Homo sapiens: one gene and its partners. The protein of the gene in region 5 purifies or fractionates together with the protein of the main gene of each other region. This does not show direct contact. Each region holds a gene or a part of one and is shown on either strand. Other genes may lie near its edges.

The links.
Region 1: the proteins of BACE2 (region 5) and KIDINS220 purify together in Homo sapiens (affinity purification with mass spectrometry; one large-scale study listed by BioGRID and IntAct). This does not show direct contact.
Region 2: the proteins of BACE2 (region 5) and PIK3C2A purify together in Homo sapiens (affinity purification with mass spectrometry; one large-scale study listed by BioGRID and IntAct). This does not show direct contact.
Region 3: the proteins of BACE2 (region 5) and DEPDC1B purify together in Homo sapiens (affinity purification with mass spectrometry; one large-scale study listed by BioGRID and IntAct). This does not show direct contact.
Region 4: the proteins of BACE2 (region 5) and PAPOLG purify together in Homo sapiens (affinity purification with mass spectrometry; one large-scale study listed by BioGRID and IntAct). This does not show direct contact.
Region 6: the proteins of BACE2 (region 5) and PUM2 purify together in Homo sapiens (affinity purification with mass spectrometry; one large-scale study listed by BioGRID and IntAct). This does not show direct contact.
Region 7: the proteins of BACE2 (region 5) and SOAT1 purify together in Homo sapiens (affinity purification with mass spectrometry; one large-scale study listed by BioGRID and IntAct). This does not show direct contact.

What each region holds. Positions count from the first base shown.
Region 1 is NC_000002.12:8,729,614-8,733,113, forward strand, and holds part of KIDINS220 (kinase D-interacting substrate of 220 kDa), read right to left. Parts: intron 2,370-3,500; coding exon 1,107-2,369; 3' UTR 1-1,106. UniProt on the Homo sapiens protein: Promotes a prolonged MAP-kinase signaling by neurotrophins through activation of a Rap1-dependent mechanism. Provides a docking site for the CRKL-C3G complex, resulting in Rap1-dependent sustained ERK activation.
Region 2 is NC_000011.10:17,205,187-17,209,148, forward strand, and holds the start of PIK3C2A (phosphatidylinositol 4-phosphate 3-kinase C2 domain-containing subunit alpha), read right to left. Parts: upstream 2,801-3,962; 5' UTR 2,662-2,800; intron 1-2,661.
Region 3 is NC_000005.10:60,596,412-60,599,166, forward strand, and holds the end of DEPDC1B (DEP domain-containing protein 1B), read right to left. Parts: coding exon 2,664-2,755; intron 1,504-2,663; coding exon 1,342-1,503; 3' UTR 501-1,341; downstream 1-500.
Region 4 is NC_000002.12:60,762,768-60,766,267, reverse strand, and holds part of PAPOLG (poly(A) polymerase gamma), read right to left. Parts: intron 1-3,500. UniProt on the Homo sapiens protein: Responsible for the post-transcriptional adenylation of the 3'-terminal of mRNA precursors and several small RNAs including signal recognition particle (SRP) RNA, nuclear 7SK RNA, U2 small nuclear RNA, and ribosomal 5S RNA.
Region 5 is NC_000021.9:41,269,160-41,272,659, reverse strand, and holds part of BACE2 (beta-secretase 2 isoform A preproprotein), read right to left. Parts: intron 1-3,500. UniProt on the Homo sapiens protein: Responsible for the proteolytic processing of the amyloid precursor protein (APP).
Region 6 is NC_000002.12:20,253,345-20,256,844, reverse strand, and holds part of PUM2 (pumilio homolog 2), read left to right. Parts: intron 1-674; coding exon 675-812; intron 813-1,503; coding exon 1,504-1,629; intron 1,630-1,860; coding exon 1,861-1,982; intron 1,983-2,830; coding exon 2,831-3,023; intron 3,024-3,500. UniProt on the Homo sapiens protein: Sequence-specific RNA-binding protein that acts as a post-transcriptional repressor by binding the 3'-UTR of mRNA targets.
Region 7 is NC_000001.11:179,355,989-179,359,180, reverse strand, and holds the end of SOAT1 (sterol O-acyltransferase 1), read right to left. Parts: 3' UTR 501-3,192; downstream 1-500.

The DNA of each region.
Region 1 (3,500 bases), on a different chromosome or scaffold from region 5:
GTTACATGTTTCCAAATTTTTTTTTAAAAAGTATTTCCTTTCTTATGATCCTTCCCCAGAACTAACATGCTGACTTAGGAACAGATGAAGTAGATAAAGTCTATCCTAGTATAGAGAGCAATGATTTAGTTTTACCTAATTAAATATTTCCTTGTCATTTATCAATTGTCACTGACCTTTTTGATGTAATTATTTCCTCATTCACTCATCTATAAATATTTATTAGTACCTATTATTACCCATGTCTCCCTGATTTTCCAGAAAAAGAATTCATGTTTTTTTTTCTTCTCATTGCTAAGCTCACTTAGAAAAGTTGGGCACCATTTAAAAGAGTTGGAGAACAGACCAGGGTGGCTTCTTGGGCACAGCTGGATGGTGCTGGAAGCCAGGCCTGGGATTTGGAGAGAAGAGTTTCCGACATATAAACCCACGGAGGTCACCAGCCCTCCCCGCATCTACTCTCCTAACAGCTCAGGACAGCCCCGTCACACTACTGCCAGCCCTGGTGACTCACTTTGTTGGCAATTTTTAAAGCCCTCTTCATTATGTACTTCCTACTCTTCAGAACCTCTGTGATAAGCAATACCCCTGCCATACAGAACGCTGGATCTCGGTTTACTCAGCCTCTCCCTGTAGCGTCACAGGCTGTGCACTCACCTAGGTGAGCCCCTAAGAGCAGGGTTTGCTTCTGCTTCACCTAACGCCACGTCTTCCCTCAAATGTGTGGTCACCAAATGTTTGCAAAAAGGGTCTCTAGCTTTTTTTCTTTTTGGCACATTAAGCCCTTTAAAATACTTCTGACCTATCTTTATACTCAGATCTCACCTCGTCTCAAAAAGTTTTATGGGGTAATGCGCCAATGAAAGGTACAGTAGTATTAGTGAGTTCTGAAGCTTCTAATTACAAAGACCACAGAGGCTGGCTGGTGAGCCATGCTTCTCATGCTCCCTTCTGTCACACTGCAGATGTCTCTTTTACCTCGGCCTCATCATCGGTTAGTTATCTGTCAGCAAAATGTAGAAAGGTGATGGGCGTGGATGGAGTCAAAATCCAGGACAATTCTGTCATAAAGGTACAGTAACACTCTTCTCCTTTGCTTGTTTTTCTCAAAGAATGCTTTCTCTTTCTTCTCCAAAGCCTGTGCTCTCAGAAGAGGCTGCTGCATGGAGCTCCGGAGGATCTTTGGAGAGCCTTGTGTAACTTGAACGTTGGCTTCGCTTATGTGTCATGCTTTTTAGATTCTCATTCTGAATAGTGGTTGGGTTGGGACTGGAACTAGGCCTCAAAATGACTTGAGAAGTCTCCCTAATTCCCTCCATCTCATCGAAATTTTGATTGGCTCTGTTGGCTGGAGCACTATTGTTGTTCAGAGTCACGGTGCTGGGAGTTCGGTTCAGGTTGTAGGCTTTCTGGCATGCAGGCCAGTTTTCTTCAGGGCTGCTGGCTATCAAGCTGCATTCGGAAGGGCTTTTCTTGTCTTCTGAACAAATGGACATCCGAGCTATAATTGGATCTTGCAGGCCACTCAGGCTATGTGGGATTCCCCGCTTTCCGCTGTGACTGTCATCTTCCAGCTCTATGAGATTTGCCTTTTCAAGCTGGGAGTCATCCGCCACTTCATTGTGCAGAGAGTGATTGGGAGAACTTTCACTGGATCTCACTCCTGAATCCGATGAATCCTTTTTGTCAAGGAGCGCATCCGATAAATACTCTTTGGCTTTAATGAAGGTTCTGATCGGCTCAGCACTGTGTTCTGGAGACTTCGGCACTCTCTCTACTTTCCCTTCGGCTTTTCTGTCTTTGTCATCTTTGAGCAGTGGAGTGTTATCTGATTCTTCTGTGCCAGATTCATCCTCGTCACTTGGGAGTTTTTGATAGCGCAGCCCACTTCCCTTAAGCTTCAAATCTGTCTGGAAGAGGCTTGACCTTTCGGAAGATTTCTTGCCTGGGAGAAGCTTACTGCCTGACTGATCTGATTTTTCATCTTCTTCAGTGATAGGATCCAGGGGGGAAGCATCGTTGGTGGAAACCCCTGATGATGAATAATCGATAACATCTCCCCTCTTCATTAGAAAGGACTTCCTCCCATCATCGGGCTTTGGTTCACTATCCTTCCCCTTTTCTTGCTCTAGGTTTGAATGAATAGAGCCCCCTGATGAACTCTGACCCATGTAATATGTGCTATGTGGAGAAGATCTGCCACTAATGGTTGTAGACCCGGGGCCCCCTTCTAACTGGGACATCTGAGCAATGTATTCTCTATAGGCATCTCTATACTCGGCCTGCACCTTATCAGTAAGCTTTGAAATTTCAATACTGGAATCCTGGGAATTGAGACTCGAAAGACTTGGGGTTCTGCGAGTTTGTGACTGTGAAGACAGAAAAAAAATAATTTAAAAATTCAAATAAGAAGAAAAAAGGCATAAACATCAGCTTAGGAAATATATATGTACACTAACCATTTAAAAAGTCATCAAAACATCAAATTCTTTTAAAAGAATTCTACATAACACAGATTAACAAAAGCTGTGACCTTATAATGCTGTTACTAGAAAGCTTTCTATAAATTTTAATAAAATCAGTTTATTGTTAATATTTAAAAGTATGATTAAACACTGTATTAACAAATAATCTTAGCACTTGTTTCTGGTTTTTATTTCATTTTTAAGAGACAGGATCTTGCTGTGTTGCCCAGGCTAGATTCAAACTACTGGACTCAAGCAATCCTCCCGCCTCAGCCTCCTGAGCAGCTGGGACTATGGGCATGTCCCACATGCTCGGCCACAGCACTTGTTTTTATAACTTCAAACGTTTAGCTTTTATTTAAGGCCAAAGTCAACTTCATTGATAAAATATAAAATGCAATGAGGCCAATAGTTGGGCCTTAGTAAACAGAAAAATAAAGTAGTTTTACAAGTTTATTTCCAATATTAAGTTTTAGAATTAGAATTTGCTTCAGATCCCAGAATAGCTAAGAAACAAGGAGCAAAAAGTACAGATGAGGAAAAAGAAGGAGAAGAATCAAGAAAGTTTAAGAAGGGTCAAGAGCAAAGGCTAAAACAAAAAAGAAGGAGCAAAGTGAATTTGTTGGGGACCTTCTCAAGGAAATAGGACATTTTCTTCCTTCCCCAAGGCGCTGCTCCTCCTCACCGCTGCCCTGCCCTGCCCACTCAGTGTTACTCGCTGCCGCCCGCTGTGCCTCCTCCCCCGTTGTTCTCCACACCCTGCTCTGCTTTTCCTCCTGCGCTCTCCTCACTCCCGCTACTCCTCCTGCATCTCTCACTTTGCTCTGTCCCTGCCCCTACCCCTACCCCTCACCTGGCCTCCTTCTTCTAAGAATCTCCAAAGGAAGAACGCGCCTACATCTAATGCCAGACCAGAAGAAACCAATATCCGTGAAGGGTGTGCAGGCGTCCTGGAAAACCAAAGGATGGTGCTCAAAGGGACACTATGTGGCCAGTGTTCCAATGAAGATGTACTTCAACCAACAGTTACTGAAT
Region 2 (3,962 bases), on a different chromosome or scaffold from region 5:
AAGAGCCGGGCAGGGTAGCTCAAGCCTGTAATCCCAGCACTTTGGGAGGCCGAGGTGGGCAGATCACAAGGCCAAGAGCTCAAGACCATCCTGGCCAACCAACATGGTGAAACCCCGTCTCTACTAAAAATACAAAAATTAGCTGGGCATAGCGGCACACGCCTGTAGTCCCAGCTCCTCGGGAGGCTGAGGCAGGAGAGTCACTTGAACCCGGCAGGTGGAGGTTGCAGTGAGCCAAGATCGTGCCACTGCACTCCAGCCTCGTCAACAGAGTGAGACTCCATCTCAAAAAAAAAAAAAAAAAAAAAAAAAAGAATAATTCATGTTATCAAAGAAAAACAAGTTACAAAAAATGCTTTGCACTACTGCTGCTCTGATGCTCTATAAGAACTCTGAGTTCTCAGGAAATTCAACACTCTTTAGGTATAAGTTCACTTATTGAATGTGCTTACTTAAATGCAAAACTTTGTGCTACAGAAAGAGTCCTGGACATGGGAATTAATGCAAGCAATCTTCAATTAATTGAAAATTTTAGAACTATTAATTGCAGAAGAAACAAACTTAGTATACAGTTATTCATTACAAAAAGTTAGTTTCTAAAATTCCTCAATGCAAACATGCCAGCTTTTGTATTCTATAAAACAGAAAAAACTGCCAGGTGCAGTGGCTCAAGTCTTTAATCCCAGCACTTTGGGAGGCCAAGACGGGCAGATCACTTGAGGTCAGGAGTTCGAGACTAGCCTGGTCAACATAGTGTAAACCAGTCTCTATTGAAAAAACACAAAAATGAGCCATGTGTGGTGGCGCGTGCCTGTAATTCCAGCTACTCAGGAGGCTGAGGCAGGAGAATCACTTGAACCCTGGAGGTGGAGGTTGCAGTGAGCTCTCGTGCCACTGCACTCCAGCCTAGGCGACAGAGCGAGATTCAAACAGAAAAAAATTGTAAAACCTGTGATGAAAACATTAAAACATGTTATTTGCAAAGAAAACTGCAGGAAACACGCATATAAAACACAAATAGCAAGACACTTTGATAAGAAAAAACCTACTTTAGAATGTATTAATTCAGCCAAAATTACGGAATTTATGGAAGAAACTCCATATGTGCTTTCTACCTACGTAAAATCACTTTTGAACTAAATCTGAGTTAACAAATAAAATCTCTCTATTCCCAGTTACATTGTTTTTCAGTATGTAACCACTGTCTTGATACTAAACAAATATCTTATATAAAAATAAAATCTGTATACTTCAACTAGGGTCCTTTCGTCTAATTTGCTGCTGTGAATAAGAGCACCATCCTGTCCAGATAAGGTTAGATCAAATTTAAAAAAAAAAAAAGCACCATTCTGCTGGGCATGGTAGACCAGCCTGGGCGACACAGTGAGACCCCATGTCAATTAAAAAAAAAAAAAAGAGCACCAACCCCAACTATGGCAGAGCTGCTAAAGGAGTCTCTTGTGGAGACTTGAACCACAAGCCAAGGAGGCAAAGGTACAAAGTCTCTCCTGGAATTAGTTCCTGGACTTCTGTGCAGCCTTCCCTCTTTCTACTATGTCTTCACCGTTCCCCTACAAACAGCTTTCTTCTTCTTGCATCTCTTATATGCTGTGGCCTTTGATGCTACAATAGATTTAAAAATTTTCCCAACAGAGCTTTTCTGCCTGAAACCCACCAGGAAAGATTTCAGGACATTCTTTAATAACTAATCTTGTTCAAAGAGGCAGGCCTCCTTCGTTTCACTTAATTCAAACCCCCACTGTTCAAAATAAGAATATAATTATAACCTCAATTTCTATCGGGCCAGTATAGGAAAAGAACTACAACAGGCTCTCTCTTCCACGTTATGTCCAGACTTTTTTCCTTAGTTTCTCCTTCCTCATTTCCCTCCTCAATCCCTCCTCCCCCAAAAAATAATTCCACAGCTAGAGAATGTCGTTTTTAAAGCCAGAAATTCAGTGAGGAAAATAAGTATGTGCCTTTTTCTTCAATTATTTATGATTCCTCCGTCACTCAGGAAGAGTTAAGCTAGTATTTTTTAATCTGACCGCTCTCTCAGAAGGATGATGCGCTAAATACACACTGAAAGAATAGTGTTCCCAAAGCAAGTGGATTCGCGGCTAAAGGCAACGCGGTGGGAGTGGGGGGTCCGGGAAGAAGAAAAAGTATCCTTGGCCCCCAGAGCCAGAGATGGGACAGGAGGTGAAAGAAGGGGCCGTCACTGAGAAGTACAACACACACACTCGCCAGAACTAACAATCTGCCAAGAAAATAGGACCGGCCACTGCGGCTCCAGCCCGGTCCCGCGGGACAAGGCGGGGGAGGGGGGCCGGCGGCCGGGGGGCCTGCCCTCCTTCTGTGGGACAAAACTAACTCCCTGGCGCACCTCCGCTCCCGAGAAGAGGGGCCTGGTGGGGACGCGGGCTCCTCGCACCTCCAGCGCAGCACTTGCTCACGGCCTGGGTGGAAGCAAGGCCCGGAGGGAGGGGGGAGTCGGGCTGGGCAACGCCAAGAGCACGGGATGGAGGGTCAGACGCGGGCACCCAAGGCACTGGGGGCCGCGACAAGAGACCCTTCCAGCCCGGGAACCCCGGGGCCCCTCTCCACCCTTGCAGAGCAGGACCCCGAATATCGTCCCCAGCCGCACCGACCGCTCCTCACCTCAAGCTGCCTGAGCCTCCGCCTCTACCACAACCTGAGCCGCCGAAGCCGCCACAGTCCGAGCCATTTTTCCCCTCAGCTGGCTCAGCCGCCGCCGAAAGCTTCGGCCGACTCCACAGCCAGCCAAGCGCAGCACGTCACTTCCGGACAGGGAAGCACCGCCTTCCCCGCCCGGACTTGTTGCGAATTGGCTGGCGCGGACGGCCTACCTGAGCTGGCGGGCGGGGCTTGGACGCTGCCGGGGTGGCGTGAGCAAGGGAGCTGGGGCGCTGGGGCGCACGGGCCCGGGGGACCAGGGTCTGGCTCTCTCCCGAGGAATGCTGAGCAGGCTCTGGACGCCTCTCCGTGCACACCCCAGACCTGGGGAGGGGAGCTCTCCGGACACCCCAGCTGGCCGCCCCTCGGGCCCTGAGTCCGAAGACCCGCTAAACAGGGCCCGGGCACTGAAGTACCCTATTGTTCTCATCCCCTCTCCCGGGACCCCGCACCCTCCTCCATCTAGGCTGAGGTTCCCAGATTTGTGTCTTGGCCCCTGGCGGCGCCGAGATTACTTTGTGATTGGAAGACTGAAAGGAACAGGCAAGACTTAAACTCGTCCACTCCAACCAGTATTTACCGAGGCCTCACGGTGGGTCAGGTGGTATACGGTGGGTAATTAGTAGCCTATCACGTGGTTTCTGTAAAATGCTTGATAGCACGTAAAACGCTTTCAGGTCGGCGTCTCGTTTCATCCTCACAACAGCCAGGTAAGGAAGATAACCCCCTGATAATAACTCACAGCCAGACGGCTCTTTCTACATTACAAAGTATTTTCACATGCAACCTCCATAATAATATATTCTTATTGAGAATTTAATGAGATTATGCTTGTAAAGCGTTTGGTCCTCACGTGTTAGATCTAAAAATTACGTAACCATGGGAAGATATAGGAAAATTATCCCCATTTACAGATGGGGCTTCTGGGGCACAAAGATGTTAAGGGGAGAGGAACGATTCCATAGCGTTTTACAACAAGATTGTCTTTTAAGCAGTAGGAGAAGGGGGTCCACACCATCCAGACGTTCACAATCTGATGTGGCAGACTGATTTAGGCTGCATTTCTCAGCCTAAACTAAAAATTATCAGCCTATATGATATACGCATAATTAGAAGGCTCTAAGAGAAGTTGAACTTTCAGCAAATAACTGGAAAGAAAGAAATTGGCCTGATTTGGCAGGGACGGGGGTTGGCGAAAGGGGGCTAGGGCAATGGGGAATGTGGAGTGGATGAATCCCTCATAGCGCTGTAATAAACATGCCTGC
Region 3 (2,755 bases), on a different chromosome or scaffold from region 5:
CTTGGCTCTAAACAGAATGCCAAAGTCTGAGAATGAATCCTGAAACACTAAAAATCTCCCATTACATTATGTATTTGGAATGTAAGGTGGTACCCAAACCAATAGGAATACTTTGGTCCATTTTTAAAAGCAAAATCTGCATCAGATGTAGGAGGTATTTTGCTACAAGAGAACAGGAGCAAATCTTAAGTGCAAGGAAAAATCAGTCCAAGGAGTACTGTAAGCCAATTAGTGGGTGTTGCTCTCAGCTTTCTGGGTAATTGCGCTCAGAGGAAGACTTTCAGATGCTCCATAATCCAAGTGCACCACAATTTTACAAAAGGACAAAGCAATGCTAAAAAATTGGCAAAGTGCTCACCTAAAGACCAGTCAGTACAAAAGCCCAAATCTTACTTTTCATTTTCTCATAGAAATAAATGACTGATGAAGACCATTGGCAAAGGCATTTGAGGATGCTCTCTAACTGATCTAAATAAATGCCAAAAAAGAAACACGAGGTATGGCATTTTTAAAAAAAATAAGTTTATTTACATTTCACTTACTTTCAAAAGGATGAAAATATATTTATAAAGGAAGTAGTCTCATTTTATTTAACCCATTTGCATTTGACTTAGAATCAGAGGTCTAAGGGTACCCAAAGAATTTATCCAGTTCAACTTTCCATTTTTAGCTAAGACTGAAATTATACCATTGCAGGCAGATGAAAATCTACTCCACTTATAGGTAAACATCAACTAATATATATGTTATAAAAACACTAGCTTTAGTAAAATCTGTCATAACATCCAATAAATCTGCAATAAAAGACATAGCTATCACAATATAAGACATTAAAAAATTTATGTGCAGCAATAAAAACTGGAATTTATACAGGAGAAATGATAATTGGCTACTAAGTCAATAGCATCACAGTAACAGTACCCAGTGTCTTTCTTATTCAAGTATACACGCTATTTTTAAGACTTAAAATTAAGTCTTAAGGCTATAATAAAGATATCAGTAGCTAGGATGTATATACACAATTATTTAATAAACACCATGAAAAAGAAAGCACAGAGATAAAAATACCCTTAAATTCTGTAGCAATTACAAACATGTTAACATTATCACTATATATTTGACTCATAAATTTTAACCAATTTATACACTTTAAAACTAGCATTGAGTTTTATAAAAATACTAATGGCCAAACATTTTTAAAAACTAAGGCAATCTTTATCTATATTTCAGTAGTCTTTGTTTTATGCTTTTCTTTCTTCCACCACCAAAGTCTTTCTCCTAACCACCATTCACTCAAAACAACAACAGTGGTCTCTAGCACCTGTTGCTGTGGAAGTATTATTACATTCGAAAACTTCTAGTTCTTTGAAATGGTTGGAAAGGCTTCTTTAGTGCCCACATTAGCAGCTGTGGTTTCGGTTTGGGTTTTTCAGGAAACAGAAGTGCTGCACTTTCTGGTGTAGGAAATCGTTCTTGATAGACTTCAGGATAGGATTTCTGAAACTAAAAAAATGAATGGTCCAAGAAGAGTAAAAAAAGACACATAAAAGCCAATAAAATTTGGCAGCCAAATTTTAAGAGTTTCTGAGCCTGTATTTTCCTGTTTTTGTTTATTTTTGTTAAAACATTTCATTCCAATTTCTATAGAGCTAATCCATCTTTCCTTTGATCTAAGCTTCAAATAAGTTCCCCTTTTAATCATGTTTCTGAAAATTCCCCCCACTGCCAACTATAAATAGACCTCACTTTTTATATATTCACAAGTAACTCTGACTTCAAAATAACTTCTGTTCTACACAGTTAAATAAAATTTTGGCCCAATTACATTTCATCATTTCTCTGTTTCTCCAACTCAGCCCCACCAGCTTCTGCTCAAATGGAAGAGGGAATATTCTGGTGTATATTACTTTGTGAAAAGCTTAAAAGAGAGGCAGTATACTTTCTGTTGATCTTTACCACTAAACTCTCCTCCAAAATTACTCTGAGAATAATATGATCAGAAGCCCAGAACTCTGGTGCTCTGTGTGTAATCCCACATGTACGGTGTTCCCTGAATCCAACTATGTAGAGTTCAGTCTTTAAAAACAAAAACCACTCACCTGATCATGGATCAACCTTTATGAATAGTCAAAAGTAACATATTGTGAGTTAAAAACGATTCGCTGGAACCCTAAGCTGTGTTCCCTAACATAAGAGGAACTAAAAACTTGTACTGATACCTGAGGCAAGAAACTAATTTGATAGTGGCTATCTAAAACCAACGGCTTTTAAACTCTAAACATTTTACACCTGTGAATTCCATCTGATTTGCCTTTTGAAAACATGAAAAGAAATCCACCCTCACTGATAGCTTCTCTGAGATTAAAGCAGATGCTCTGCTAATTCACATCATGCCACATACCAAAACAAAGGACAAATATTAGAGAATAGCTCCAAAAATGAAGAGTTTGGCAATGGTAACAGATTTACACTGAAGAATAAAGATCTAGGATACTGACCACAAGTGTGTAAATCAGTGAGACTTCTAGAATGTATGAACTAATATACTTAGAAAACTGCTATGGCTCAGAAGATGAGATTTACATGAAGCCTATTAAAATAAAAAAAAAAACATAAAAACAGTAGGGAGGAGAAAAAATGGCTTATAAAGAATATCCTTTTACCTGCTTCAGTTTCTTCTTTTTCTCTTTGTTGGAGAGTTTGGCATCTGTTATGACTTCCTCCAACAAGGCTGCCAGAGGTTCCTGAGAGCCAT
Region 4 (3,500 bases), on a different chromosome or scaffold from region 5:
TGCCATTACAATTCTTAAATTCTTTTTTGCTATATTTACTGACTTCTTTGGCATGTAAAATCATATTTCATATTTAATCTTCAATCATATTTACATTTCTCAGAGTTAAGAACTGTGTCTACTGCTTCTCTGTATTTTCTCACAATGCCCAGTACAAGTTCTAAAGAATATCTGCTGATTAACTTCAACTTGAATGTAAGTATCTATATAATAGGATATTATCCTTGTTAATGCTTCTGTGTAATGAATATTAAGGTTAAGAGTATCACAAATAATTTTATAGCTAGAAAGAAGTTAGTAAATTAATCAGATTTTTTAAAGAGACAGAGTCTTGTTATGTTGCCCAGGCTGGCCTTGAACTCTTAGGCTCAAGATCTTCCTGCTTCAGCCTCCTGAGTAGCTGGGACTACAGGCATGCACCACCATGCCCAGGAATCTGTAAATTTATTGATGATTAACATGAATGAAATGGACAGAGAAGACAGGACCTTAAAAAAATCTTTTAGTTCACATTTCTATTTTGAGAAGTCTGATTCTCGCATGATTTATGAGAAAGTGATATGCTAAATCAGTTTGCCACAGCCATAGTATCTAACCAAAATGATTTGATGTGGGATTCTACACTATTTAAAGTTTAAATATCCCAATTGTGTACAGATTCAAATCATCTTTGATTAAACCCAAATCCTTCAGTTACTTTCCAAAGTAAAATATACATAAAGAGAATTACAGGCTGTGAGTGGTGGCTCATGCCTATAATCCTAACACTTCGGGAGGCTGAGGTGGGAGGTTCACTTGAGCTCAAGAGTTCAAGATCAGCCTGGCAACACAGTGAGACCTCGTCACTTTTTTTTTTAAAATCAAAAAAAAAAAAAAAGAGAATTATAGGCTGGGTGTGGTTGTGACTCATGCCTGTAATCTCAACACTATGGGAAGCCAAAGCAGGAGGATCACTTGAGTACAAGAGTTTGAGGACAGCCTGGGCAACATGGCAAGACCCCATCTCTACCAAAAAAAAAAAAAAAAAAAAAAGTAGCTAGGCATCAGGATGTGTACCTGTAGCCTCTGCTACTTGGGGGGCTGGGGTGAGAGGATTGCTTGAGCCTAGGAGTTTGAGGCTGTAGTGAGCCATGATTATGCATGCCACTGCACTCCAGCTTGGGAGACAGACTGAGAGATCCTTCCCCCATTCCCCCACACAAAAGAGACAATTACAATTCACAAAGAAAAATGACCTCATCTGCTCAATGGAAGATGTTAACTAACTTTATTTTTTTTGACTACCTGTCACTAGCATTTCCATCTGCTCAGAATTTGACTCATCCAATAACTTCAACTATTGATAACCCTGGTGAGTTCAGAAATGAGGCAGACAGCCTTTTGGCAACAAAAGTAAATAGCATAAATACCATGTTAAACTCAACGACTGTAGTCTTTAGGAGACTCAACTTTATTCTGAGCCCACTGTTTAAAAGAACCAATTCTACATATTCATCATAGCTACAGAAAAAAATAATAAAAGCTGTAAAAGAAAGAATTCTAGACCGGGTGTGGTGGCTCATGCCTATAATCCTAGCACTTTGGGAGGCCAAGGCAGTTGGATTGCTTGAACTCAGGAGTTCGAGATCAGCCTGGCCAACATGGCAAAACCCCGTCTCTATCAAAAATACAAAAATTAGCCAGGTGTGGTGGTGCATGCCTGTGGTCCCAGCTACTAGGGAGGCTGAGGTGGGGAGGTTGGGAGGACTGCTGGAGCCTGGGAGGCGGAGGTTGCAGTGAGCTGAGATCGCGCCACTGCATTCCAGCCCGGGTGACAGAGTAAGAGCCCATCGCCAAAAAAAAAAAAAAAATCTGCAGTTGTTTACCTAATTTCTAAATCCATGCAGATTAAGGGGCAGAAAGGGACTTTACAGCTAGACACACTGACAACTGTGAGTTTTAAACAGTGGGCTTTCTTTTAAACAGTGGGCTTTCAACTGACTGCTGTTAAGGCAAAGATAGGAAAACTATGAAAAACAAAAACCTTAAAATATAACAGTATGGGCTACCTAGTGATGAGGCAAATGGTATCACCCAGTTGAACATTCTCTCCCTCATTCTGGTACAGCCAGTAAAATAACCTTCGCAGTGGTGATTCTCAGACAATAATAAAAATTCAATTGTGAGGCAGGGCATGGTGGCTCATGCCTGTAATCCCAGCACTCTGGGAGGCCGAAGAGAATGGATTACTTGAGGTCAGGAGTTCGAGACCAGCCTGGCCAACATGGTGAAACCCCATCTCTACCAAAAATTCAAAAATTAGCTGGGCATGGTGGCGTGCACCTGTAATCCCAGCTACTCGGGAGGCTGAGGCAAGAGAACTGCTTGAACACAGGGGTGGAGGTTGCAGTGAGTCAAGATTACGCCACTGCACTGCAGCCTGGGCAACAGAGAGAGACCATGTCTCAAACAAGAACAAAACCAAGGCCAGGTGTGATGGCTCACACCTGTAATCCCAGAAATTTGGGAGGCTGAGGCGGGTAGATCACCTGAGGTCAGGAGTTTGAGACCAGCCTGACCATTATGGTGAAACCCCGTCTCTACTAAAAATATAAAAATTAATTGGGCATGGTGGTGTGCACCTGTAGCCCCAGCTACTTGGGCGGCTAAGACAGGAGAATCGTTTGAACCTGGGAGGTAGAGGCTGCTGTGAGCTGAGATCTCGCCACTGCACTCCAGCCTGGGTGACAGAGCAAGATTCTATCTCAAAAACAAAAACAAAAACAATTATATTCAAAATATAGTTAGCCTTCCGTATCTGCAGTTTCCACATCTGCAGATTCAACCAATCACACACAGATAAAAAATACTGGGGGGAAAAAGCCATAAAAAATCAAGCAAATTTTAGGCAAGGCGCAGTGGCTCATGCCTGTAATCCCAGCACTTTGGGAGGCTGAGGTCAGAAGACTGCTGGAGACCAGGAGTTTGAGACCAGCCTGGGTAATACAGTGATACTCTTGTGTCTACAAAAAATAATAAACAAAATAAGCCAAGCACAATTGTGCATTCCTACAGTTCCAGCTATTCAGGAGGCTGAGGTGGGAGGATCACTTGAGCCCAGGAGTTTGAGACTGCAGTGAGCTATGTAACTGTGCCACTGTACTGCAGCCTGGGTGACAGAGGGAGATCCTGTCTATAAAAAAAAAATAAAATAAAATTTATGGTTGGGCGTGGTGGCTCAAGCCTGTAATCCCAGCACTTGGGGAGGCTGAGGTGAGATCATGCCACTGCACTATAGCCTGGGTGACAGAGCAAGACTCTGTCTCCAAAAAAAAATAAAATAAAATAATGAATAAAATTTAGGCTGGGCGCGGTGGCTCGAGGCTGTAATCCCAGCACTGTGGGAGGCTGAGGCAGGCGGATCACCTGAGATCAGGAGTTCGAGACCAGCCTGGTCAACATGATGAAACCACGTCTCTACTAAAAATACAAAAATTAGCCCGGTGTGGTGGTACACGTCT
Region 5 (3,500 bases):
CACGGAAGACATTAAAGATCTAAATCAAATTTTTAGTGATAAAAATTATAATATGTGAGATGAAAAATATACGGGATGGTTGTAAGAGCAGATTATACACTGCAGAAAAACAGACTAATGAATTTAAAAAAAACCAAAACAATAGAAATGAAGCACAGAGAAAAAACTGAAAAAAAAGAGAGAGAGAGAACATCAGTAAACTGTGGACAATATCAAGCTGCTAAATCATGTAATCAGAGTACTCAAAAGGAAGAAGGGATTGTGAGGCAAAAAATATTTGAAAAAACCAAAAATTTTCCAAATTTTATGAAACTATAAACCCACAGACCCAAGAAGCCCAAAGGACCCCAAACACAAGAAACATGACATAGATTATAATAGCGCACTGCTGAAAACCAGTGATAAAGAGAAAATTTCCTAAAAGCAAGGAGAGAGAAAAAAGAAATATTATGTACAAATGAATAATAATAAGGATTACAGATGATTTCATGTTGGAAGCAATGCAAACTAGAAGACAATAGAGTAACATCTTTAAAGTACTGGGGGTAGAAGAAGCCCTGTCAACCGAGAACTCTATACCCAGCAAAAATATCTTAAAAATGAAGAAGAAATAAAAATATTTTCAGTCATACACAAGCTGAGAGAACACATCACAGATTTTCACTACAGAAAGTTCTTCAAGCAGAAGAAAAAGGACATCAGAAGGAAACTTGAATCTACACAAAAGAATGATGAACACCAGAAGCGGGAAGTATATAGTAGTTATAAAATCTTTACTTTTAATTTTAAATATTTACAAAGATAATCAATTAAATCAAAAATTATAACAATGTGCTGGGTGGCTTATAATATAGGCATAGGTAAAATGGATGACAATAGCACAAAGGACCGAAGGCAAGAAATGGAAGTCTATTGTTGGAAGGCTCTTAGACTATATGAAGTGGTAGACTGTGGTCAGTTAAAAAATTTACACTACATATTCTAAAGCAACCACTAAAATTTCACGATATAGAGTTATAGCTAATAAACTAGCCAAGGAGATATAAAGAAATAGAAAATAATCCAAAAGAAGGCAGCAAAAAAGGAAAAAAGGGAAAAAATGTAACAAATGAGACAAAAAGAAAAATAGTTTTCTTTGTTGTGTTACTGGTTAAACACAGACATATCAATCATACATTAAATATAAATAGTCTAAACCAGCATTTGGCAAACTTTTTCCGTAAAGGGCCAGATAGTAAATATGTTAAGCTTTTTAGGTTAGCTTCTTTCTGATTTTTTCAACCCTTTAAAAATGTAAAAACTATTCTTACCTCACAGGCCATACAGAAACAAGCCACATGCTGGATTCAGCCTATAGACTGTTGTTTGTGGATCTCTGGCCTAAACATCACAACTAAAAAACAGAGACTGCTAAATTAGATAAAAAGCAAGATCCAAGTATATTCTCCCTACAGGAAACTCACTTTTAATGTTAAGACTCAAAATGTTAAAACTAAACAGATGGAAAAAAACTATCATATTAATGCTTATCAAAAGAAATCCAGAGTGGCTATATTATTAGACAGAATAGATACAGATCAAAAAAATTACTAGAAGTAAATATAGTAGTTTCATAATGATAAACTGTTTCCTTCATAAATAGGACATAAAAATCCTAATGTTTTTTTACCTAATAACAGTGTTTCAAAATACATAAAACAAGATTGATGAAAATGCAAAGAGAAATAGACAAATCCACAAATATAGTCAGAGATTCCAATATCCGTTTCTCAATAATAGAGCAAGTAGACAGAAAATAAGTTATGATATAGAATACCTAAACAACACTATTAACTAACTTGATCTAACTATTATAAACTAATCCACCCATAATAGCAGAATATACATTGTTTTCAAGAGCACAAGAAATATTTACTGTGATAGACTATATTCTGGACAATGAAATAAGTTTCAATAAATTTCAAAAGATTCAATTCATAAAAACTATATTCCCTGCCCACACTGAGGTTATATTAGAATAACAGAAAGCTTCTGGAAAAATCCCTAATTATTTGGAAACTAAATAACACATTTGTGGCCAGGTGTGGTGGTGGCTCATGCCTATAATCCCAGCACTTTAGGCGACGGTGGTAGGAGGATCACTTGAGGCCAGGAGATGGAGGCTGCAATGAACTATGCTCACGCTACTGTACTCTAGTCTGGTGACAGAGCAAGACCCCATCTCCATTATATATATATAAAATCTTTGTGTCCTGGGGTTAGGCGAAAAATTTCTTAGCTATAGTACCCAAAAGCACAATTTGTAAAAGGAAAAAAAATGGATTTTATCAAAATTAAGTAAGAACTGCTCCTCTTTAATAGAAAATATTAACAGACTAAAAAGACTTGGCAAAAATATTTGAAAGCCAAATTTCTGATAAAGGACTTGTATTCTTCATATATAAATAACTCTGAGGACTCAATGAGAAAACAAACAACCCTATACAAAAATGGGCAAGAACATTTGAAAAGACATTTCATTTAAAAAGATGCATGAATGGCAAAAAAGTACATGAAAAGATATTCAGGATTATTAGTCATTAGGGAAATGCAAATTAAAGCCACGATGAGACCGCTAAATATTAATACCTATTAAAATGAAAATACTGACCATACCAAATGTTGGTGAGGATGTTTAACAACTGGAACTTTCATACACTGTTGGCAGGAATGTGACATGATAAAGCCAACTTTGAAAATGAGTTTGGCAGCTTTTTAAGTAGTAAAACATACATGTTATGTAACTCAACGATTCTACTCCTAGGTGTTTATCCAGGAGAAATAAAAAACAAAATATATGTCCAAGGACTTGCATGCTATTGTTGATAGCAGCTTTATTTATAATTGCCAAAAAACCCAAAACTTGGCAACAATCCAAAAGTTCATCAACAGGTGTATGGGGATAAAGAAACTATAATGCCTAATTGATCTGCAATAAAAATGAACTTTTGAACATGAAACATTATAGATGAACCTCAAAATAATTTTATTGTGTGAAAGCAGTCAGACAAAATGGAATACATACTGTATGATTTCATTTATATAAAATTCTAACAAATACAAACTAGTCTACAGTGACAGAAGGCACGTCAGTGGTTTCCTGGGAATGGCATGGGGTCCACAGGACCTGGGAGGCAGGGAAAACAGCTCAGTGCATATGATCACTACCTTGTTTGTGGTGATGGTTTCAAGGTGCGCACACATATAACACTTATCAAACTGTATCCTTTCAACATGAACTGTTTATTTTACACCAATTATATCCCAACAAAGCTGTTTCAAAAAGTCAAAAGAATAAGATAGTCAAAGCATGTCAAAGAATAGCACATCTGTTATAATCTCATTGAGATTAGAAAAGAAAAACCGAGGCCAGGCTCGGTGGCTCATGCCTGTAATCCCAGCACTTTGGGAGGCCGAGGCAGGTAGATAACCTGAGGTCAGGAGTTGAAGACCAGCTTGAC
Region 6 (3,500 bases), on a different chromosome or scaffold from region 5:
AAAACTCCTGAGCTCAGGTGATCCACCAGCCTCAGGCTCCCAAAGTGCTGGGATTACAGGTGTGAGCCATCGCATCTGGCTATAAGCACTTTATTATAAGAGCATTTTATAAAAGAACAAAGATACCTGACATTAATTCTTCCCTTAGGGAATTATTGAGATAATATGTAAAAATCATAGCCCATAAGTAGTCATCAACTTCTTAGCCTTTTCTATGTACTTGATAAACTCACTCAGCCATTAAAAATAATTCCTTTGGTGGTGGAGGTGGTACTAAGTAAGGCGGAAGTGTGTAATTCTGAATTAGTCATGTTAGTTACCGCCCGATAAATATTAGCGGATGATTTACACAGTGAAGACAGTTTAAATACAGCAAGTTCAGCATCACTACGTTGTTTCAACATACATCATTTACATTATAATCCTGCAGTGTGTTTTAGTAATTTTCACTTTTCAATGGTTTCTGCTAATTATACTACAAGAGAAAAAAATTTAAACCCTTGACAAACAGGAAATAATATTTGTGAATATATTTGTGTTCCCATCTCAGTATTTTTAATACTGAGATAAATATACTGAGATTTTTAATATTTTTAATTTTTAATACTGAGATAAAATATACTAGTATTTTCTCGTTTGAGGTAATAATTTAAATGACATCCTGTCTTTTGCAGAGTGAAATGGTAAAGGAGCTGGATGGTCATGTGCTCAAATGTGTGAAAGATCAGAATGGAAACCATGTTGTACAAAAATGTATCGAATGTGTTCAGCCACAGTCACTACAGTTCATCATTGATGCTTTCAAGGGACAAGTATGTTTGAGTTTTGGCTTATAATTTGTTAGCAGGGCATTATTTTAGAATTTTGAATATCAACACGTTTTTCATGAGTCACTAGATAATACCCAGCAATTGTATACAAAAATAGGATACAAAACAGTAAATGTACATTAATTTCTTCCTCTTTCATAGTCAGTAGATAGCTTCATTTTTCTGAAGCTGCAAAACAAATAGTTTAATCACATTACTTTAAGAAGTAAAGGTAATCACTGTTAGAATTGTTTTTTATTTATACCCAACGATGTTTTCAGGTTTACTCAGAGAAGGGAAGGAGGTTTGGAGAAAGACATAAGACTGTATAATAAGACAGAAAACACATAGCAATTTGTAACTAATACATAGTAATTAATATTTCTTAATGCTGAACTACCCTTTCTCTTTTCACCCATTCATTCCCATTGTTACATAACCTCAGGTTCAGGTAAAGTTCTGGTTAGGTTCCTTTTGATCAAAATATCTTCAGCTCCTAAATGGAGTGCTCCCTGTCCCCACTCTCCAGTCTTTTCTAACATGGTGGTAGTCATATTAAATGTGAGTTCATCACCCTTCTATTTCAAACTGCTTTTAGGTGTTGTCAAAAAAAAAAAAAACAAACCAGTCTGCTTCATAGAACTGTTCAAAAATGTCAGAGAATACAAATTTTAATTCTTCTAATTGTCCTCAGGTATTTGTGCTTTCAACTCATCCTTATGGCTGCAGAGTAATTCAGCGCATCCTAGAGCATTGCACTGCAGAACAGACCTTACCTATCTTAGAAGAACTCCACCAACATACAGAGCAGTTGGTACAGGTATAAATTCCCTAATAATTTGAAATGTTTATATATTTTTGGAAATTGTTTTAATTTTTAAAAGAAATACAATTTGTTACTAAACACACTATAGACAAGAGTGAGACAAAAGGCTGTTGTATTCTCCTAACTATCCTACTGGATTTTTAGATGAAATGATTAACATGTCTTTAAAGAATATCATTCTTAAGGAATGACTTAGGGAAAGTAATTTTTAAATATCTGTCTTAGGATCAGTATGGCAATTATGTTATTCAGCATGTACTGGAACACGGTCGACCTGAAGACAAGAGCAAAATTGTTTCCGAAATCAGGGGAAAGGTTTTAGCCCTGAGTCAACACAAATTTGCCAGGTATTGTAATACTTTGTAATTTTAAGGGTCAATTCTTTCAACTCATTGACTTTTATTAGTTATCACAGAAATACGTGTAGCATGTAGCATTAAACTGTAGTCTTTTTTTTTTGGTATCATTAAAATGCACCTATAGAACATTGCTTTTGTTTTTTAAAAAAATCTACATAACAAATTTGTTTTGCCCACATATGTTCATTTATGAAATCTGTATTTGGAAAATAATTACTCCCGACACTGGAAATGCAGATTTATTTAGTACATGTTTCTTGAAAACCTCACAGCTTTAATGATCTGGTTTCCTTTTTTTTGAAGTACAATTTTAAGAGACCTGTAATTAAACTTGTGGATGTCAAAATGATGTAGGTTGTTCCAAGATACCAATTTCTGTTATAAAAGTAATTGGCTGGGTACAGTGTCTCACACGTGTAATCCCAGCCAGCACTTTGGGAGATCAAGGCAGGAGGATCAGTCGAGCCCAGGAATTCGAGATCAGCCTGGACAACATAGAGGGAGATCCTTTCTCTACAAAAAATTATCCAGGCGTGGTGGCGCATGCCTGTAGTCTCAGCTATGGGGGAGGCTGAGGTGGGAGAATCACTTCAGCAAGGGAGGTCAAGGCTGCAGTGAGCGGTGATAGCATCACTGCACTCCAGCCCGGGTGACAGAACAAGACCCTGTCTCAAAAAAAAAAAGAACAAAATAAAATAAAAGTAATCATAAGACAAGAGAATCCCATCCTGACTTCTGTTTTATTGTTCATTGGAGAAGATTCTTTCTATAAGTCAAGGAAATTTTGCTGTGAAGAAAAAAATAACAAATCTTTGTTTATCTGCTTTAATTTTTAGCAATGTAGTAGAAAAGTGTGTTACTCATGCCTCCCGTGCTGAGAGAGCTTTACTGATTGACGAGGTTTGCTGCCAGAATGATGGTCCTCACAGTGCCTTATACACCATGATGAAGGACCAGTATGCCAATTACGTGGTTCAAAAGATGATTGATATGGCTGAACCTGCTCAGAGAAAGATAATCATGCACAAGGTAATACAGCATGTAACACTCAGATAACTGTTTGTCTTTGTGTTTAGGCTACACATTTAACCTCCTTGGGCTTTCATTTCCTCCCGTATGTTATAACTGGAGGAAAAATTAAAATCGATGGATATCCTTTGGCAGATATATTGGTATGGTTTCCATTTTTATGCTTAAGGTTATCATGGCCAGGCATGGGGGCTTTTGCCCATAATTCCAGCAGATTGGGAGGCTGAGGTGACAAGATCACTTGAGCCCAGGAGTTTGAGACCAGCCTGAGCAATGTGGCAAGACCCTCCCTCTACAAAAAAAAAAAAAGAAAAACAATTAGACAAGCATCATGGTGCAACCCTTTAGTCCCAGCTACTTGGGAGGCTGTGGTGGGAGACCACTTGAGCCCAGGAGTTCAAGACCAGTCTGGACAACATAGACCCCCATCTCTACAAAAAATTTAAAAATTAGCTGGGTATGACGATACATGCCTGT
Region 7 (3,192 bases), on a different chromosome or scaffold from region 5:
TCCAAATATATTTATCACATTTACATGTGCAGTATTTTGCCTTTTTTGTATATTTTTAAGTTAAAAAAAAATTTTTTTTTGAGATGGAATCTCGCTCTGTTACCCAGGCTGGAGTGCAGTGGCGCGATCTCGGCTCAATGCAACCTCTGCCTCCCGGATTCAAGCAATTCTCCTGCCTCAGCCTCCCAAGTAGCTGGGATTACAGATATGTGCCACCATGCCTGGCTAATTTTTTTGTATTTTTAGTAAAGACGAGGTTTCACCATATTGGCCAGGCTGGTCTCGAACTCCTGACCTTGTGATCCACCCACCTCAACCTCCCAAAGTGCTGGGATTACAGGCGTGAGCTACTGCGCCCGGCCTAAAAATTTTTAAGTTAATGCTAATACAACTCATACTAAACAAAGTATTGGTACCAGTGATCAGACAAGGACTTGCAGGGGGCAGAGGGAATAGCAATTCAGGAAAGTAACATACAAGAATGAATCAGAAAAGACATCTTTCACTATAGAAAAACCTTTAATAACAACTTCAGATTTACATGACCCTTCTGGTGCTCAGAACACTATGGATTAACACACACACTGGAAAGATACAGACACAGGAATCTGCTGCATTACCCCAAATGGCAAAGTCTTGACTGGGGCTTCAGCTCCTTTCCCAATCCAAAATTGGCACCTTTTTCCATGGAAATTCAAACTGCATCTCTAAATGATGGGGTACATGAACTGTCTGTTTCAAAAGTATTTAAAAACAAACAGGAAGTACAGCTTCCATTTCATTAAGAAAACACCACCACAAGACATGGTGCAGTATCTACTAGCTTAAAGTTTATCACTCCATTAGGGCTTATTGACAGCAGAAATGTGAATGTAGTAATGTAGAAATAAGGAAGAGAGCACTTAAGAAAAAAACAGTACAGAAGTTTTAGAGTTTTTTAAACTTTAATAATATGCTTGACTAATATAGTCAAAAGTGATATGCACTCGTGAAATTAACCCATTTTCTGAAGTCCAAATTAGCTATTAAAGTCTTTTTTTACCAAAAACATATAAGGATTTAGTACACTATATAGATTACATAGCTTTCCTACCAACCTAAAGCTTATCAACTTTATTATTGTCTACTGATTTTCAAACTAGGCATTAAATTTAGGGTGAGAAAGAAGTGATACACTCTGTTTCAACTAGGGTGGTTGCATATTATCCTCTCTTTAAACCGGGCTTATATGTAATTTTTTTTTTGAGACAGGGTCTCGCTCTGTTGCCCATGGCTCTGAAATGGAGGGAACTGGGACATAAATGTTTTGAGGAATTAAGTGGTGTGATCACAGGTCACAGGTCACTGAAGCCTCCATCTCCCGGCTTGAAGCCATCTTCCCACCTCAGCCGACTGAGTAGCTGAGACTACAGGCGTGCACCACCACGCCTGGCTAATTTTTGTATTTTTTATAGTGACAAGGTTTTGCTATGTTGCCCAGGCTGGTCTCAAACTTCTGAGCTCAAGCAATCCTCCTGCCTTGGCCTCCCAAAGTACTGGGATTAAAGGCATGAGCCACTACACCCAGCGATATGTAACATTTTATTTCAACAGAGGGCCAACACTGTATTACCTGACAGAAACTTTAATAATGATACAAAAGTCAAATCCTTATATAAACTTCACCCAAAACATTCACTTTGGCCGGGAGCATGGCTCATGCCTATAATCCCAGCACTATGGGAGGCTGAGGCTGGCGGATCATGAGGTCAGGAGTTCGAGACCAGCCTGACCATCATGGTGAAACCCCATCTCTACTAAAAACACAAAAATTAGCTGGACATGGTGGCAGGCACCTGTAATGCCAGCTACTCGGGAGGCTGAGGCAGGAGAATCGCTTGAACCCAGGAGGCAGAGGTTGCAGTGAGCTGAGATCACAGCACTGCACTCCAGCCTGGTGACTGAGACTCCGTCTCAAAACAAACAAACAAACAAAACATTCACTTTATTCCTTGAAACATTTATGTCCAGTTCCCTCCATTTCAGAGCCATAAAGCCTAGAGATAAGATACATAAAATACCCAGAACAGACCTTTGTGTGTATACAGTGTATGTATACATACCATATGTAGCATTGTTATGTAGTATTACATAAATTACATGAAATTTTGCATAAGATTAGTAAGCAAGTCACTGAAACTTTATTAACAATAAGTATGGGCTTGGCATGGTGGCTCATGCCTGTAATCCCAAAGCTTTCTGCAGTGGGAGTTTTGCTTGAGGTGAAGAGTTTGAGACCAGCCTGGGCAACATAGGGAGACCCCCCCCATCTCTAAAAAAAAAAAAACAAATAAATTAGCTGGGTGTGGTGGTAGGCACTTGTAGTTCTAGGTACTCCAGAGCACTATTTGAGTCCAGGAGTTTGAGACTGCAGTGAGCTATGATCACGCTACTACCAGCCTGGGCAACAGAGTGAGACCCTGTCTCTTTAAAAACAAAAACAAAGTATGAGCTATCTTCCATTAAAAAACTGATTCTGGAGCAAGGAGCCAGGAGCCGTGGCTCACACCTGTAATCCCAGCACTTTGAGAGGCTGAGGCAAATAGATCCCTTGACTCCAGGAGTTTGAGACCAGCCTGAGCAACATGGTAAAACCCCATCTGTACAAGAAAAAAAAAACTGGCCTGGGCGACAGAACAAGACTCTGTCTTAAAAAAAAAAAAAAAAAAAAAAAAAGGCAGCCTCAGTTTTCTAATTAAATTCTAACATGAGGCAAGCAACTTTACCTGCAAAGTTTTAGTATGTGAATCTACCAACAAACAAAACAAAATTCCATTTTGCATCATTATCCAAGATTGAGAATAAAAGGATCTAACAAATTTATCCTCACACATAAAGGTACTAGAAGGTCAAGTTAGAGATCTAATGAGAAAGTGATATACATACTACATAATTGTTCTGTTGGTTAATATGCCCAAAATAATAGTTACTATCATTACATCTTACAGAAACAAAAACTTTAAGCTTATTACTTTTCAGAAGGAAAAAAGTATCCTATAACTGAAAATAATTTTCGCCACAATAGCAAAATAGAAAAAATAAATCTTCCTGAAACATTAGCAAGAGATTTTAGTTTTTATTTGTTTAAAGAGTATAGGTGGTGGTTTCAAGAAAAGACTTTTGCTAAAAGCAGCTAGCAATAAGATTATGGCT